Regions from separate parts of the Homo sapiens genome. Here region 1 is linked to region 2. Evidence: fine-mapped expression QTL. Tissue or cell type: lung. Region 2 holds a variant in brackets; the other region holds the start of a gene. All regions are shown on one strand. Distances are from middle to middle.

Region 1 (8,000 bases), 190 kb before region 2:
GCCCATTGAGAAGGGTGGGGAAAAGGGTAATTGAAAGAGCTTCCAGGCCAACTTGGTGTGTATATTTCAGTGGAGCTGCTGGATGCGGTAAGCCAAGCTGCTCAGAAGTACGAGGCACTGTATATGGGGACACTGCCAGTCACCAAGGCCATGGGTGAGGACTGAGGGGGCTGCATGTGGTGGGCTGTGTGAGGCAAGGGGAAGGTGAGTGAGGTGAGGCCTGTTATCATTTCTCAAGAGTCCTCCCGTGGCCTTGTTATGGCCTGGGGTCTACCAGCCTTCCCAAATCAGAATTCTAAGGCTTGCCCCAGCTATCCTATTCCCTATCTCTGAATCCCAAATCAGTGAGAGGGGGCTAGACACTCCCTGCAGACTCTTTCTTTTACACTGGGAGACACGCTGGGTATGTTCCCCCAGGCATGGATGTGCTGAACGAGGCCATTGGTACCCTCACCGCCAGGGGGGACCGGAATGCCTGGGTCCCCACCATGCTCAGTGTGTCTGACTCTCTCATGACTGCACACCCCATTCAGGTACCAGAAGAGGGTGAAGTTGGGGGCTTTGGAGGGGTGAGCAGGGATGCTGAGGGGTCACTGCTTGCTGTCGGAAAAGTTAAGTGGGTCTGGCCCGTGCTTGGCCCTCTAGTGACTAGGCCTGGTGTGGGCAGGCAGAGGCCAGTACAGAGGAGGAGCCATTGTGGCAGTGCCCTGTGCGCCTTGTGACATTTATTGGTGTTGGCCGCGACCCACACACCTTTGGCCTCATCGCTGACCTGGGCCGTCAGAGCTTCCAGTGCGCAGCCTTCTGGTGCCAGCCCCATGCAGGGGGACTCTCTGAAGCTGTGCAGGCTGCCTGTATGGTGAGTCATGGGTGGGAATGGGTTGGTGGGATTGCCCTGCAGCTGCTCTCCACTGTTTACTTGGGCTCCGGGTCGGCAGCCTCTTCAGAGATCACAAACCTGGGCTGATTCTGGTTCATTAATGTTTTGGCCCTCATGTTGTTTTTAGTAAGTTTTAATTAGTTGCCAATATTTAAAGGCCAGGACATTTCACATAATAATCGCTATTCTTGTTTTTCTTAAAATATCAAGAGCTCTGGCACTCAGTTCACACGTGTAAGTGTCAGCATGCAGCCAGAGTTGTGCAGAAGCTGTGCCCTAAAGAGTTGGCATTGTTCCTGTTTGTCTCATTTAGGTTTATTTCCTGGCATCTGTGGGCATTTGAGTGTGGGTTGCTTATACTTCGTTAGTTCAGTTTGCCCATTCATTCAACAAATATGGGTGCCTACAGGGTCCCAGACACCATAGCTGACCCTGAGAATTTAGTGCTGTAGAGGGCACAGCCCTTGCCTTCACAAAACACTTAGGATAGAGCCAAGATAGACCAGAAATAAGTTGTACACCACTGGTTGATGGAAGAGGTGGCCCCTTTAGGGGTCAGGAAGGCTACCTGTAAGAGGTGATAGAAATCCGACAGTCCAAGAGGGAAGTTAGCCAGGTGAAGGGGAGTGGGGCAGGTGTACCAAGCACAGGGAACCTTAGCTGTGAAGGTGAGAGATATTAGTGGATGAGAGTATCTGAAAGAATCTAGTGTATCTGGCATGCAAGGGGGACGTAGTGAGAGGTGAGATCAGAGAGAATGACAGAAGCCAGGTTTGGGGGACCTCATAGGTCAGGGTGATGAGTTTATCTGGAGGCACTAGGAAGCACTGGAGCCCGAGAGTGAAGTCAGGGTTATGGATTAGGATGACCACTTAAGCTATAGTATGGGTAAAAGATTTGGAGGACGTAATAGGAGGTAGGAAGGCCAATTAGGACACCTTTGAGCTGTTCAGATGAGATGACTGGGAGCAGTTGCATTGGGGCTGGAGTTTGAGTTGTACACCTTTACCCTTGACTAGGGAATCTGCTTTGCCAGGGACTAGTCCCCACCAGTGAGAGATGGAAAAGAGGCAACATAGTGGTACATGTAATTAAGAGTTTAGGCTCTGCAATCAGAGAGAACTAGGTTTGAATGCCATTTCTGCCTTTCTCTGGCTGTGTGACCTTGGGCAAGTCATATACTCTCTGAATCTCAATTTCCTCTTTTGCAAAACAGGGATAATAACCCCTCATAAATAACTGAATTATACAAAGCACTTAGCAGTGTCCAGCCTGCCCTCCTTAAGTGTCTGATACATGTTTTATGATTTTGTTATTGAGCTACCTGGGAATGCTCTAGAAACTCCACATGTGGCTGACTACCAACCTTGTTATCAGACAGAAGCTTTGGCCAGTTCCCTGTCCTGCAGAAGCTTTCAGGGAGTCTAGAGGCAGAAAGTAGCTGGATCCTCACATTCCCCTTCTCCCTAGGTTCAGTACCAGAAGTGTCTTGTGGCCTCTGCAGCTCGAGGCAAGGCCTGGGGTGCCCAGGCCCGTGCCCGCCTGCGGCTCAAGCGGACCAGCTCCATGGATTCCCCAGGAGGTCCCCTGCCCCTCCCCCTGCTCAAAGGAGGGGTTGGCGGTGCAGGGGCAACCCCTCGAAAGCGGGGTGTCTTCTCTTTTCTTGATGCCTTCCGGCTGAAACCCTCTCTGCTCCATATGCCCTAAACTTATCTGGGAAGGCTGGGGAAGTAGGCTCTGGGTCCATGCCTAACTCTGTACCGTTTTATTCCTCAAGGCCTATAGCCTGTCACTCCTTGAAGCCTTCTCTGCCTGTCCCTCCGATCCTTGTCCACCGTCTATTTATTGCCCAATTTATTGTTTATACGGATGACTGGGAGGCACTGCACCACAACGTAGGACCCTGGCTCCCCTTTCCTTGGGTCCTTGTGTTCCTTGCCCCTGTCCAACCCTGGACAGTTGGCTCTACCTCAGTAACACTTTATAGCAAAATCAGTGCAAATAAAAATCCCTCAGTGACCTCACTGGATGTGAGTATATTGGGCCTGGGACAGGGCTGGGGGCTAACACCCTGTGTGAGATGAGTGTCTTTGTGTCTGTGCTTGATGTTGGTGGCTCTCTGTAGTCACATGACAGCATGGGTGTGATGGAGATCTGACTTCATTCAACAAACATATTTTCTAAGGAGTTCCCTGTGCCAGGCACTAAGCTGGGCACTGGGAATGTAATAAAATAGTCAAGGTCCCACCTTCTAAGACTGTCCGACAGGGAAACGAACAAGAGTCAAATAAGGCAGAAGATGTGATGTAATACACCTACGAAATCTCAGAGGGTTGTAGGGTCGTGGGAGCTCAAGTGAGACACTTAACCTGGCCTGAGACATTCCAGAAGGCCTCCTGAAGAACTGACATCTGAACTGAGAACTGAAGGAAGATGAGTACTAGTGAGGCTACCGGACGTGAATGTGGAGATTGTGCAGGGCAATGCAAGAGGAGGCTGTAGAAGTCAACCTGGCTAGATCACAGCGGGGTGTATGTGGGGCAGGAGCTTCTTTGTTTGAATTTGCTCCTGAGAGGATGAGGCCTCCTAGAGCACTGGCTCCTGGACAGCAACCTCCTTTGGTGCCTTGTGACCAGGGCCCTGATGGTTCATTAGATGGAGCCTTCGAGTCTTAGGGAGTTGCCGCAGGGTCCCCACAGCGGCTCCCGACGGTTGTGAACCAGCATCCATCCTCCACGGATTCCGGCAACCCGCCTGGCCCTGGACGTGTCTCAACTGGCCCGCGTGAGGGGCCGCCCCGGAAATGACGCGCTGCCCCGCTGGCCAAGCGGAAGTGGAGATGGCGGAGCTGTACGTGAAGCCGGGTGAGCGCAGCCGGCGGGCTAGGGCACTAGGTTGTCGCCCCGGCCTAGGCTGGGGGCGGTTGCGGCGCTTAGTATGGACCCTCTGTCTCCCCCAGCCCCAGTATAAGCTAACAGTGGAGTTCCGGGCTCGCTTCACACATCCCTCGCCTCCGCAGGCAACAAGGAACGCGGCTGGAACGACCCGCCGCAGTTCTCATACGGGCTGCAGACCCAGGCCGGCGGACCCAGGCGCTCGCTGCTTACCAAGAGGGTCGCCGCACCCCAGGATGGATCCCCCAGAGGTGCGTGGGGCCCCTGTGCTCGGAGACAGACGGAGAATGGGGGGGGGGGGGTGTAAGGCATAAGCCTGTTTGGAAGGCTTTTTTCTCTCCCCGAGGGCTCCTTAAGGAGAGAAGTTTTGGGGCTCCAGTAAGGGTCTCAGAGCAGGTGCTTTTCCGAGCCCCTTCTCTGCTGCTCAGGTTAATAAATGGTGTATTGATTTAAAAAGACTATTTTTTCATCCTAGATGATCTTATCCAGACCTGTGGCTTTTAATATAGTTTTAATCCTGAAGTTATTTTTCTTTGTTAACCTATACCTCTTGCCAGAACCGTATAGTGGCATATTCATTTGTCCATTCTGTCTTCACTTAGGTATATGATAATCGTCAGACTTCACAGTTTTTCATTCATTTAATCACTGTTATTTACTGAGCACTTCTATAAGTCAGGCACTGTTTGAGGGCGAACTAGACAGCAGTGAGAAAAAAAAAAAAAAGATCTCTGCTTTCAGGAAGTCCACGTTGCAGCACTGGAGATGGGCTGAAAGATGAAATAGTGGTGAGGGTGCTACAGAAAATAAGCGGTGATGTAATATGACTGGGTAACGAGGTGTCTGAGGGGCTGACATTTAAGCCACACAAAGATCATGTACAAAAGCATTCCAAGCAAAAGAAACAGCTGCAAAAGGAATAAGTTTGGCCAATTCAGAGACTGATGAAATACAGAGTGGCTGGCTACAGCATAGTGGGCTTTGTAAAGCAGGATGAGGAATTTGTATTTTAATCTACATAAAGTTAGAAGCCATTGAAAAGTTTAAAGTAGAGGAGAGCCACCTTTCCCCCCGAGAATTTTCCAAGCCATTAAATGGGCTGTGCCGTGGCCCCCATAAAGGGGCTCAGGTTTGGTTCTTTCAGTGGCCCTCCATTCTCCACACCCTTTTTGCTGTAGAAGAATGATACAAGGCTTGGTTTCTTAAACTCAGCAGTATTGATAGGTTGTGGCCAGATAATTCTTTGTGAGGGACTTTCCTGTGTCTTATGTTAATCAGCAACTCTGACTTCTACCCAAAAGATGTCAGTAGCATCCACCCAGTTGTGATAGCCAAAAGTGTTTCCAGACATTTGCCCTGTGGGCACTATCTTCCTAGCTTGAGAACCAGGGACTGATTTACATTTTGGAAAGATCACTGTGTCTGCTGTGTGAAAACAAGATTTTAGGGAAGTGGAAAGACAAATTACAGCTATTATGGTAATATAGGCAAGATTTAATGATTTGCATAAGGGTGGGAGTCAGGGTGGTAGGAGTTGGATGGATATGAGATGGAGAAGGTCAGTAGGAATGAGTAGATTAGGAAGAATCCATATAACTGAATTTTTTTGCTTGATATAGGAAGACTGGGGATGGTGGTTTTGGGGAGGGGGAGTTTTTTTGGGGGGCCATGTGAAGTTTAGGCTGTTACTTTTGGGGAATGTTCTAGGCCAGAATTAGAGAAATAAGTCACCATTACAAGGATGGTATTTGATGTCATGGGCTTGAATATGGCCAGGGACAGAGCCGTAGGGCACTCTAGCATTTCAAGGTTGAGAAGGAATCAGCAAAGGAGATTGGGAAATGGCCAAAGAAGAAAAAAGGAGAGGCCAGGCGCAGTGAGTCACGGCTGTAATCCCAGCACATGGGGAGGCCAAGGTGGGCAGATCACCTGAGATCAGAAGTTCAAGACCAGCCTGGCCAACATGGCGAAACGCTGTCTCTACTAAAAATACAAAAATTAGCTGGGCCTGTAATACCAGCTACTTGGGAGGGTGAGACAGGAGAATCGCTTGAACCTGGGAGGCGGAGGTTGCAGTGAGCCGACATCGCACCACTGCACTCCAGCCTGGGCGACAGAGTGATATTCTGTGACAAAACCAAAATAAAAAAAGAAAATAGGAGAGCGTAAAGACATGAATCAATAGTAATGAATGCTGCTGAGACATCAAGATAGAGACAAGGGGCCAGGCGCAGTGGCTCACGCCTGTAATTCCAGCACTTTGGAGGCCAAGGCGGGTGGATCACGAGGTCAGGAGTTCAAGACCAGCCTGGCCAACGTGGTAAAACCCTGTCTCTACTAAAAATACAAAAAATAGCCAGGTGTAGTGGCGGGCACCTGAAATCCCAGCTACTCGGGAGGCTGAGGCAGGAGAATCATTTGAACCTGGGAGGTGGAGCCTGCAGTGAGCCGAGATCGCACCATTGCACTCCAGCCTGGGACTCCATCTCAATAAAAAAAAAAAGAGCGACAAGGAACCAGTAGATTTGACAAACATAGCAGTCACTCGTGATCATAACAAGAGCAAGTCTCTGCAGTAGTGAGAACAGAAACAGCTGGAATGGGCTGAGGAGAGAATGTGAAAAGTAGAGAGAGTGACTATAAAGAGCTCACTCAAATGCTGCTGCAGAGATAAGAAATGGGACAGTATCTGAAAATGGAACATGAAGTAAGGGAGTGTTTTGATAGTAATATACTAGAGCATGTTTGTACACTAACGGGATGATTCAGTAGAGAGGGGGAGCTGATGATGCAAGAGAAGATAGTTACAGTAGGGAAGTCTAGAGAAGACAAGAGAGGCTAGGATGCAGAGTACAGCTGGTAAGATGGCTTTTGATAGGAGCAGGAACCTTTTCATCTATTACAAGAGGAAGAAAAGTGGCCACAGATGCAGGTGGGTTAGGAGGAATGGTGGTGGGAAGATGAGAGAGTTCTGTTTAATGACCTCTACTTTTCAATGAAACATTAGGCAGTGTCAGAAGAAGATAGCAAGGAAAGGAAGAGAAGTTCTGAAGAGTGGAAAAAATGAGCCAAAATGTCCAGGCAGTATTTGGTACCTTTTAAAATCTGTGGCCATGAATTTAAACTATCAGCATGGCTCTGTTTTCCCTCCCAAGTGCAAGCAAGTTGGGTTTAACCAGGAAAGTGGGACAATGGGAGGAGATAAAGGAGGTAAAAATATTTATAAGGGGGTGATGTTAATGTACATTGAAATCAAAGTAGCTGAGCTGGAAGGGGTAAGGGGGTGATCAGATTTTGGAGGTGATAGTGTGAACAAGGCAGGGGGATGACAGGCTGATGTAGGGTGGGAAAAAATGATCACTGGAGGTGAAGAGGTCAACTGAAACACCAAATTATTAGATGAATTAATCATCCTTGTGGATGTTGGTACCTAAAAGTAAACTTTTGACTTTTGTCTTCCAGTCTTCTTTCTGTTAGTGGTTCCCATTACTAAGTCAGAAACTACGAGTCACCTTGACTTCTCTCTTCCTCACTCTCAATCCACTCCTGTTGCTACTTCCTCCTAAGTAAATCTCAGACTACTCCATTCCCCTCGTCTACTCTTTTACCCTAGTCCATGCCAGCATTATCTCTTTCCTGAACTACTCAACCTCTCAACTGGTGTTCCTGCCACCACTGTTGACCTGTTTTCATCAGTTTTTCACAGAGCATACATGTTTAAAAATAAGTCTGGTCACATCACCCCTTGCTTTTACAAACCTGCAGTGGCTTCCCAGTACCATTGACTCAAGATCAAACTCTTCCAAAGCCCCACAGGGTCTGGACCCTCTGCTTACCTCTCTAATGATAGCTCATACTACTTTCTTCAGTGGTAATAATTTTTAGCCATACAGGCCTCATTACTGTCTCTTGAACAAATCAAAAGTTTTCCTGCTTCTTGGGCACTGCTCTAACCTCGACCTAGTACATGTTCCTTCAACTCTTCATAGCTGCATCTATCTCATCCGGTAGTTCTCAATTTAATAAAAACAGCTCATTTTGTACTTTTTGCTACATACTAGTCTAGCAGCTGTCTTTTTTTTTTTTTTTTAAGAGGGTCTTAGTATGCTGCTCAGGCTGCTCTCAAACTCCTGGGCTCAAGCGATCCTCCTGCCTCTGCCTCCCAGTGTGCTGGGATTAGAGGCATGTGTCACCACACTCAGCCTGTACCTGTATTCCTAATCTTC
Region 2 (8,000 bases):
ATACATCAGCTCTGACTGTGGAAGACAGATCCCAAGATGGATTGAGAATAGATAGAAAGACAGATAGTGAAAGACAACATAGAGGTAAACCCACAGTGAGACAAAACAAAGATCAGAGTTGAGAAAGACAGCCCACTTGAGCTGAAGCCTCAGCCCTTTCCACCCACATCGAGGGCCCCTGTCCTATGAAGAAAGATTTCCTTCACCCCTTCAGTCTGCCTATGTCCATACACAGATAAGGGAAGTGACTGTTGATCAGATCTGCGGGCTTACTGGAGATATTATTTAGGGACAGCTCCTGGACAAGAACGCTCTCCCAAACCCTGACACATTCTCCTGAGAGGACCCAGCCTGGAGCTCACATCTTCACTGTCACTTCCACTGAATGAGTGTTCTGGCTCCAGCCCCTTCTCAGGGATGCTTCTCTCCTCCTCTGGCATCAGCTCATCCAGCCAGAGGAGTTCCTGTGGTGAGAAGACCCTCTCCAGGGCCTTTCGGACCCCCACAAGGCCCAGCAACTGCAGGAATAGAAACATGGCCCAGGCCTGTCAGCAACAGTAGTAGGAACATTAACAATAGTAACACTTATTGAGCACTTCCTATGTGCTAGGCATTGTATATCAGTTTCACTGAATGCTAGCACATTCCTATGAGGTAGATAGAATAAATTATTCCCATTGTACAGGGAAGGAAACTGAGACCCCAAGTGATTAGTTACTTCCCAGAGGTCACACATCTGGGATATATAAGCAGATTGATTCTACTGCAAAGCCTGTGACTCTTAACTTCCTCAATAAGAACAAGGCCAGAAGCCACCTATGTTATCACCTCACTGAGTAATAAAAGTGTCACCATTTCCTCTACCAAGACCTCAGATTTCTTCTGGGTTTTATATTCTTACCTGTGGCTGATCACTCCAAAGAGGTTGGGAAAAGAGGTGAATCAGGTATCCCAGGACTAGCCCATACATAGGTATCATCCTGCCATCTTTTTCTTTGTCTTAGGATTCCCAACCAGGGAGAGCCACAGCGAGTGAGAGGGGAGATTCTTCCTCTCGTGGAGGCCTTGGCCACCCTTCCAGGCTCAGAGTCTCCCAAGACCCTCCAGGACACAGCCCAACCCTGCCTCAGCTTACCATGAGGGGGAAGATGATGGCTGCAGGGGTAGACTTGATTATCCAAAGCAGCCCCAGACAGGCAAGCTGGATGGCTGTGAAGAGGTGGACCCTGGTCAGAGGCACATGCCGCAAGAGTAGCAGGTCTGGCTGGTGTTTTGCTGGCATCAACAACAGCTTCACCCTATTAGTGAACTAGGGGAACAAGAGGAAGAGGAAAGCAGGGCACTCAGGTAGCCTGATAGGAGGGTGTCACTGATAGCTATCATAGCCCAGCACTGGGAGCAGGCAGAGAGCATGGCAGCCGAGTCCCTGAGTCCAGGAGAGACAGGAAAAAGAGAGTAAGAGGGAAATTGGCAAGTGTAAGCAGGAGATGCCAGCAGAAAAGAAAAAAGGAGTAGGGTTGCTAGGTAATTTTGTTCTTTTTTGTTTGTCTTTTTATTCTTCTTTTTTCTTTTGTTAGGTGATTTTAATGGGCTCACCTGAATGCTGCTGAGCGCTGCCACCCCCATATACAGGAAGATGCCATAGAGCACAGGCATTGGAATGAACTGGTAGAAAGAAGCAGAGAGTTATCAAAGTTTACCTCTGCCAACCTCCCAGATGCCCCAGGATGCCCAGATGCCCTAGATCCCTCTAGCATCTAGCATCCAGGTCTGCCCAGGCCTTGCCTTTCCTTTCACATGTTTCATGCCGATCTTATTGAATCCTCAAATCAATTAGATGAAGTAAATGTTATTATTGCCTTCATTTTACAGATTGGGAAATTGAATTTCAGAGGGACTAAGTAACTTTGTCCATTACCTGGCCTACCATTCCAATCTTATCTATCACATTTCCTTCTGTTCTTTATGCTCCCACTATACTAACCGCCTTTCCTTCCCTCAACATGCCCAAGTTTGTTCCTACCCCTTGCAAAGCCTTTTGCTTTGCTATTCCCTCCACCTAAAATGCTCTTCCCCCAGACTTTCTCATGACCAGTTTATTCTTATTACTCATGCCTCCTCTCATGACACCCTGAAAGGTCTTCATTGACTTTTTAACTTCAGGCCCCATCTAAAGTAGCCCCTGGCACTCTTAATCATCTTATCTTCTTTTATTTTTCACAGAAGTTATCACTATCTAAAGTTATCCTATTCTCTTGTTTTAATTTGTTTTTTTGTTTTTGTTTTTTTTTTTTTGAGGTGGAGTTTCGTTCTTCCACCCAGACTGGAGTGATGTGGCTTGATCTCGGCTCACTGCAACCTCCATCCCCCCAGGCTCAAGCGATTCTCATACCTCAGCCTCCCAAGTAGCTGGGATTATAGGCACCCCCCACCACGCCCAGCTAACTTTTATATTTTTAGTAGAGATGGGGTTTCGCCATGTTGGCCAGGCTAGACTCGAACTCCTGACCTCAGATGATCCACCCGCCTCAGCCTCCCAAAGTGCTGGGATTACAGGCGTGAGCCACCGTGCCTGGCTTCTTGTTTTAATTTTTAAAAATCTTTCTCCTCTCACCAGGTTGTAAGGTTAGAAAAATGATTTCTTTTGAGCACCATTATATCCCCAGTACCTAGAACAGTGCGTGGCATGTGGGTTTTTGTTTGTTTTTTTGTTTAGGGTTTTCTGTTTTTTGGGATTTTTTGTTTTGTTTTGTTTTTTGAGACAAGATCTCACTCTGTTGCCCAGGCTGGAGTCCAGTGTCACAAACCTGGCTCATTGCAGCCTAGACCTCCTGGGCTCAAGTGATGCTCCCACCTTAGCCTCCCAAGTAGCTGAGACTACAGGTGCACACAACCATGCCCAGCTAACTTTTGTATTTTTTGTAGAGACGGGGTTTCGCCATGTTGCACAGGCTGGTCTCAAACTCCTGAGCTCAAGCAATCCGCCCACCTCGGCCTCCCAAAGTGCTGGGATTACAGGTGTGAGCCACCACACCCGGCCTAGCATATGGTTTATGCTCTGTAAATGTCTGTAAATGAGAGTCACCCAGTTAGTAAGTGGCTGATCCGGTCCATCTGGCTCTTTCCCTACTCCACTTTCACCCAGCTTCCATGACCTTTCCCTTCCCTAACCTCTTGTCGTCCTGCCAGTGACCCTTGTCTGACATTCTCCACACCCTCCTTGACTGCTT[G/TG]CTGTCTTGGCTTGTTCAACCTTTTTGCTATTACTTGTTACTTAATTTTTGCTCATTTGTGTGTGTTGCTGGTAGGGGCTTAGTTCCATATTTCTTTTCAATATTCCACTGACCCGTACTTCTCCCAAGTGCCTAGCAGTCTTGCATATAGCAAATATTCCATATACCTCTGGTGAAGGAGAAGTGAAGGCTTTTTGCCTCAAAGTTTTTCTGTTGTTGTTTTTTGGTTTTTTTTTGTTTTTTTTTTTTGAGACATTCTTGCTCTTGTCATCCAGTGATCACCACCTACTGCACTCTCAAACTCCTGGGCTCAAGCGATCCTTCCACCTTAGGCACACACCACCATGCCCAGCTACCTTTTTTATTTTTTGCAGAGACAGAGTCTCCTTATGTTGCCCAGGTAGGTCTCAAACTTCTGCGCTCAAGTGATCCTCCCACCTCAGCCTCCCAAAGTGCTGGGATTACAGGCATGAGCCACCGCACCTGGGCTGATCATACTCTTAGTCTCAGGTTTGTTGGGAGGCTAGAGCAAGGGTAGCACTTAGACCCTAGGGGATGGTGGTGGCACACCCACACCTTGCTCCACTGGGTAAAAAGCCCATTGGATAAGCGTTTGAGTTCTCAGACAGATCTGAAAAACTGGCTCTTTTGATGGGCTCTTGCAAGTTTCTTTGCCTCTTTAAACTTCATCTGCCTCATTTGTAAGGTACATACTCCTTTCAGGGTTAATGTGAGGATTAAATGAGACCATGTATGGAGAAAACTTAACAGAGCACCTGGCACACTGTAAGTATTCAACTACTGTCAGTTCTTGCTGTGCTCCTATTATTACTACACTGACCCTGATCCTGGCTTGTATAACAAAGGTACCTTGAGCACAGGTGCCAGGAAGATGGAGGCTCCTGTAAGGATGAACACCACCAGGCCTGTCAGCCTCTGTTCCCTGTGGGGAGAGGGAGGAGTTAGCTGAGGTCTGGGAGAGTCCCTGGGGTATCCAGACTGGAGATCCTGGCTGAATACCAGTACAGACCCCGGCAGCAAGAGAAAACTAGAGGAATACCCCAGTAGGTCACCCAGAGGGATGAGCCCTTAGCTTGATGTGAAAAATTGGTGGAGAGGAAGGGGCAGAGCACTTCAAGGTGAGAGTCCCAGACCTCTCCATCAATTCAAGTTCATAGTTGCTCCTTATTTTTATTTTGATGGAAAATTAGCAATGTTTACACTGCCATAAAGACTTACATTTCACAATTTATCAAGTTGATTTCATATACTTTAGATACTTAGACTGTGCTTCCAACAGTTCCAAAATTGCTTTTATGATGGATTCCTTTGTAACTTCTACATTGAGTGAGGATTATTAGGTGGCACCTGACCCTCCACTTCAGCCCTGGCTGCCTCTACCTTTGCATGGATGATAATCCTCTTGAGGCCCCTCCCAGTCCCCATGGCTGAGGGGAGAGAGGGGAAGATCTGACTCACCCATCTCAGAGCCCAGAACTCACTCATTCTGCCACTGCAATGCTTGTGGGACACCAGCTTAGAATTTAAGCTGCCCAAGTAACTCTGCCATGTTCCCCTTTGCCTTACCTTGCTGCCCACCTCTTACTCCACTTCCTAAATACCGCCCTCACCTGATACCCAGGAAGTTGGGGCGCTCCCCGGGGGCACAGGCTCTGCTCTCTCTCCGAAGACTGTCCATGTGAGCCAGGGAGATGACAGTGGCTGAGACATACCAAGGCAGTCCAAGCGCTGATGTGAGTAGCATCAGCACAGCCACACAGAAGAGGTCCAGGTGGAAGCCAGCTCCCTTCTGCAGGTAGTGGTGGGGGCAATGAGGATGAAGCTAGCCCAGGCCCCAGCCCTCTGTCCTCTGAGGTAGGAGAGGAGGAGCGTAGACTCCCCTGGAGCTTCTGTCCCTTGGTCTTGGGCCTTACCCAGCAGGCCTTACCTGCAGTCTGTATTCCATGCGGTTGAGGATGACTGCTGTGATCTGTTGGTCCATGAAGATGAGGATAGACAGCAGCAGGGCAGGCAGGGCAGCTGCCACACTCCACCACCAGGGGTTGGCTCCAAAAGGTGACACCAGCCAGCCACGCCCAGGGAGTGTGGGCTGGAGGAGGGCATTTCATGGACAGGTTGGAGTGGGTCTCCCAAGAGCATCTCACCTGCACATCTCAACCTTGGCATTCTTCCACAACCTGCCCCCACCCCAAGTCACTAGATGCTAGTGGGCTGTGTGTGCATAGCTGGTTCAAAGCATCCCAGTGCCTTAAAAGACAGCAGATGGAAGGAGACCAGCCCTGAGGTCAGGCTGGAACCAGGGGCTCTGGACTTTGGTTCAGGGTCCCTCCCTCCCTGGAACAGAAGGAGGTGGCACATGTGGCCTACACACACTTCTTGATGTACAGAGCCCTGCTCCCTAGAGATCCCTCTCCCCCTATCCCGGGTGGGGCAACTCAGGCTCAGACCTGCCTTGATCTGAGGCAGGGACAGGGCTGGGTGTGTCTGTGTCCACGCTGATTACAAGCATATGTGTTGGGGAGGGGGCCCCAGTTGCTGCCCCAGCTGGATTCCTCCCTGCTCTCCTGTCTTGGGGGAATTTGGAGAGGAGGTCTCCAAATGCAAAGGCAAAGTCTAGAAATCAGTGCTAAGCCTTGTCCTGCACACTGTCATGCCCTGGAAAGGGAGTTCCAGCTTTCCTGGATCAGGGTAGGCAACGTGGGGTGGGAAGAAGAGAGTGAGGAGTAGTGGAGTGGGCAGGGCCACGCCAAGGGTGGGGCAATCCCGTAACAATAATAGCTAACATTTATTGAGGACTTGGTATGTGCCAGGCATGTGGTAAGTGCTTTCCACTGTGATCTTCTGTAAACCTCAAAACAATCTACGGGGTAGGAACTATTGTCATTTTATTATTTCCATTTTATAGACGAAGAAATTGAGGCTTAGAAATGTGCATTAACTTGCCTAATGCATAGCTGGGAAGTGGAAGAACTGGAACTCAAACCCAGGGCTGGCTGATCAGAACCCATTCTCTTAACCCATACCCTGTAATAATAGCTACCGTGTATTCTCTGTACTCACGTGTCTGCTGCAGTACTTCATTTAATCCTCATGACAACCCTGTGAGGCCATTATTATTACTATCTCTAGCTTATTAGTGAAGAAAGAAGCTTAGAGAAGTGTGGGATTTATTCATTTTCCTTCCCCATGGTCTGCTGGCCCTGCTTTCCCCTCTGGTCCCCCAACCCTCTTCCCTGGCTCTCACCTTGAACTCTCTGGGTACCATGAGCTTTGGTGTGGCTAGGCCCAGGAAAGCATCAAGGCCACAGCCGAGCAGGATGGCCAGGACTGAGGAGAAGTCGCTGAGCCCTTTGCGCACCTGGCACACAGTGGACACTCAGTCAGGTCCAGGCCTGCCATCTCTCTTTTTCCACACCACTTCCCATCACAGATAGGACCCAAAGCTTAGAGTCAGGCCTCTCCCACAGAAAGAAAGGTGAAACTCACCACAGAGGGGAAGAAGCGGCTGGTCTTTACACACTTGAGGGCCATAGCAAAGAAGAAAGAAGTAAGGAAGAGGAGAAGGGAGAAGAAGGCAATGTCTGGGACTGTATGACAGCCAGGGCCACGAGGGTGGCCTCCCTGCCGGGTGCACTCAGGTGGCGGCAGCAAGGATGCATTGATCAGGCCTAAGTCCTGTACACAGGAGGGTCAGGAGTGGAGTTATAGGCAATGGAGTAAATGTCCTGCTCTCCTGGACCAACTTCAAGGGAGGAGGGACCCACAGAGACACCAGGGGCCCAGGATGGGAAGTTCCCAGCTGTAGGAAATGGCTAAGCTTTACTCACCTATGAAGGTTTCCTTAACCTATGGGTAGGAAGAGCTAGAAACCACCGACTGCCTTGGTCTCCACCCTTTCCTTCCTAGAACCTCCCAGGAGCAGTCCCTCACCATGCTTACAATGTCGTCTCTGTCTTTTGGCCTTGTCCTTATCCATTGAGACTCATTTCCTGGGAAGCAGAGAAGAATTCAGATGTATGTTCCCTCCCCTGGGAACCTCCTCCAGCCCCATAAAATTCTTATCTGATGGGTCCAGGTGAACCAGAGTTCTTAATTGTGACTCATCTGTCTGCTGACTCTATCACTACCAAGTGTGCGAGAAGGACATTGTCTCATGCCCCCATCCTCTCAAATTCTCTACCCATCTGCATCCCTGGTACCAAGCACTGGACCTGGCCACAGTAGATGCTCAGCAAATGTTGGCTGAATAGAGGAGTATACAAATCTGTGTGTTTCCACCAGGGCTAGAACTGGTCTTGTTCATGCCTAGCACTGATAGGAGAACATATAGAGAGGCCACTTCTTCCCAGTCCTGGGGTTGCCTTCCATGTGGAGGGATATATGCAAGTGTAATACTCCAAGCCTCTCTCCACCTGGCCGGCCACTCTCACCCAGAAGAGCAGTGATATATTTGATTGGTGATTTCAGGAAATGAAGCTGGGCATACCTGGCCCTGCCCCTTTCTCTCCCCTCTCTCGAGTATAAGCTGCCTGTTTGATGTATGTATTTAGCTCTACTCCCCTGGGGTAAGATAGTCTCAAACCAGTGCTTCCACGACTGGTGGGTAAGTCTATTCAATTTTGGCTTCATCATTAGGAAGCCCATTCACCCACAGATATAACCCATGTTCCTTTATCAGTGTTGTCAGAAAGGAAGATGATATCAGGCCTTCTGTTGTCTTATTTCTCAATTGATTCAGAACCAGAGTGT

The links. PIP is the estimated chance that this variant, and not a neighbour inherited with it, causes the effect.
Region 1: SRA1 starts here. The variant in region 2 is fine-mapped to the expression of SRA1 in lung (TOPMed, PIP 0.93).

Annotation. Positions count from the first base shown.
Region 1 is chr5:140,553,172-140,561,171 of GRCh38, reverse strand. It overlaps SRA1 (steroid receptor RNA activator 1), which reads left to right and starts at 3,699. Exons shown (of 5, transcript NM_001035235.4): 1 at 3,699-3,744; 2 at 3,900-4,025. The coding sequence starts at 3,720. It overlaps APBB3 (amyloid beta precursor protein binding family B member 3), which reads left to right. Exons shown (of 13, transcript NM_133173.3): 10 at 71-154; 11 at 418-533; 12 at 668-859; 13 at 2,351-2,904. The coding sequence ends at 2,587. RefSeq lists enhancers at 3,270-3,329, 3,420-3,779, 3,645-4,466 and a silencer at 4,990-5,139.
Region 2 is chr5:140,364,760-140,372,759 of GRCh38, reverse strand. SLC4A9 (solute carrier family 4 member 9) reads right to left here. Exons shown (of 22, transcript NM_031467.3): 12 at 7,182-7,240; 13 at 6,738-6,926; 14 at 6,496-6,609; 15 at 5,179-5,340; 16 at 4,862-5,040; 17 at 4,101-4,173; 18 at 1,597-1,665; 19 at 1,136-1,309; 20 at 363-518; 21 at 1-15. ANKHD1-DT (ANKHD1 divergent transcript) reads left to right here. Exons shown (of 2, transcript NR_186045.1): 2 at 1,578-1,864. Among named protein-coding and RNA genes, the nearest start is that of SLC4A9, 8.6 kb to the right of the region's middle. The variant G/TG (reference allele first, on the strand shown) is at 3,231.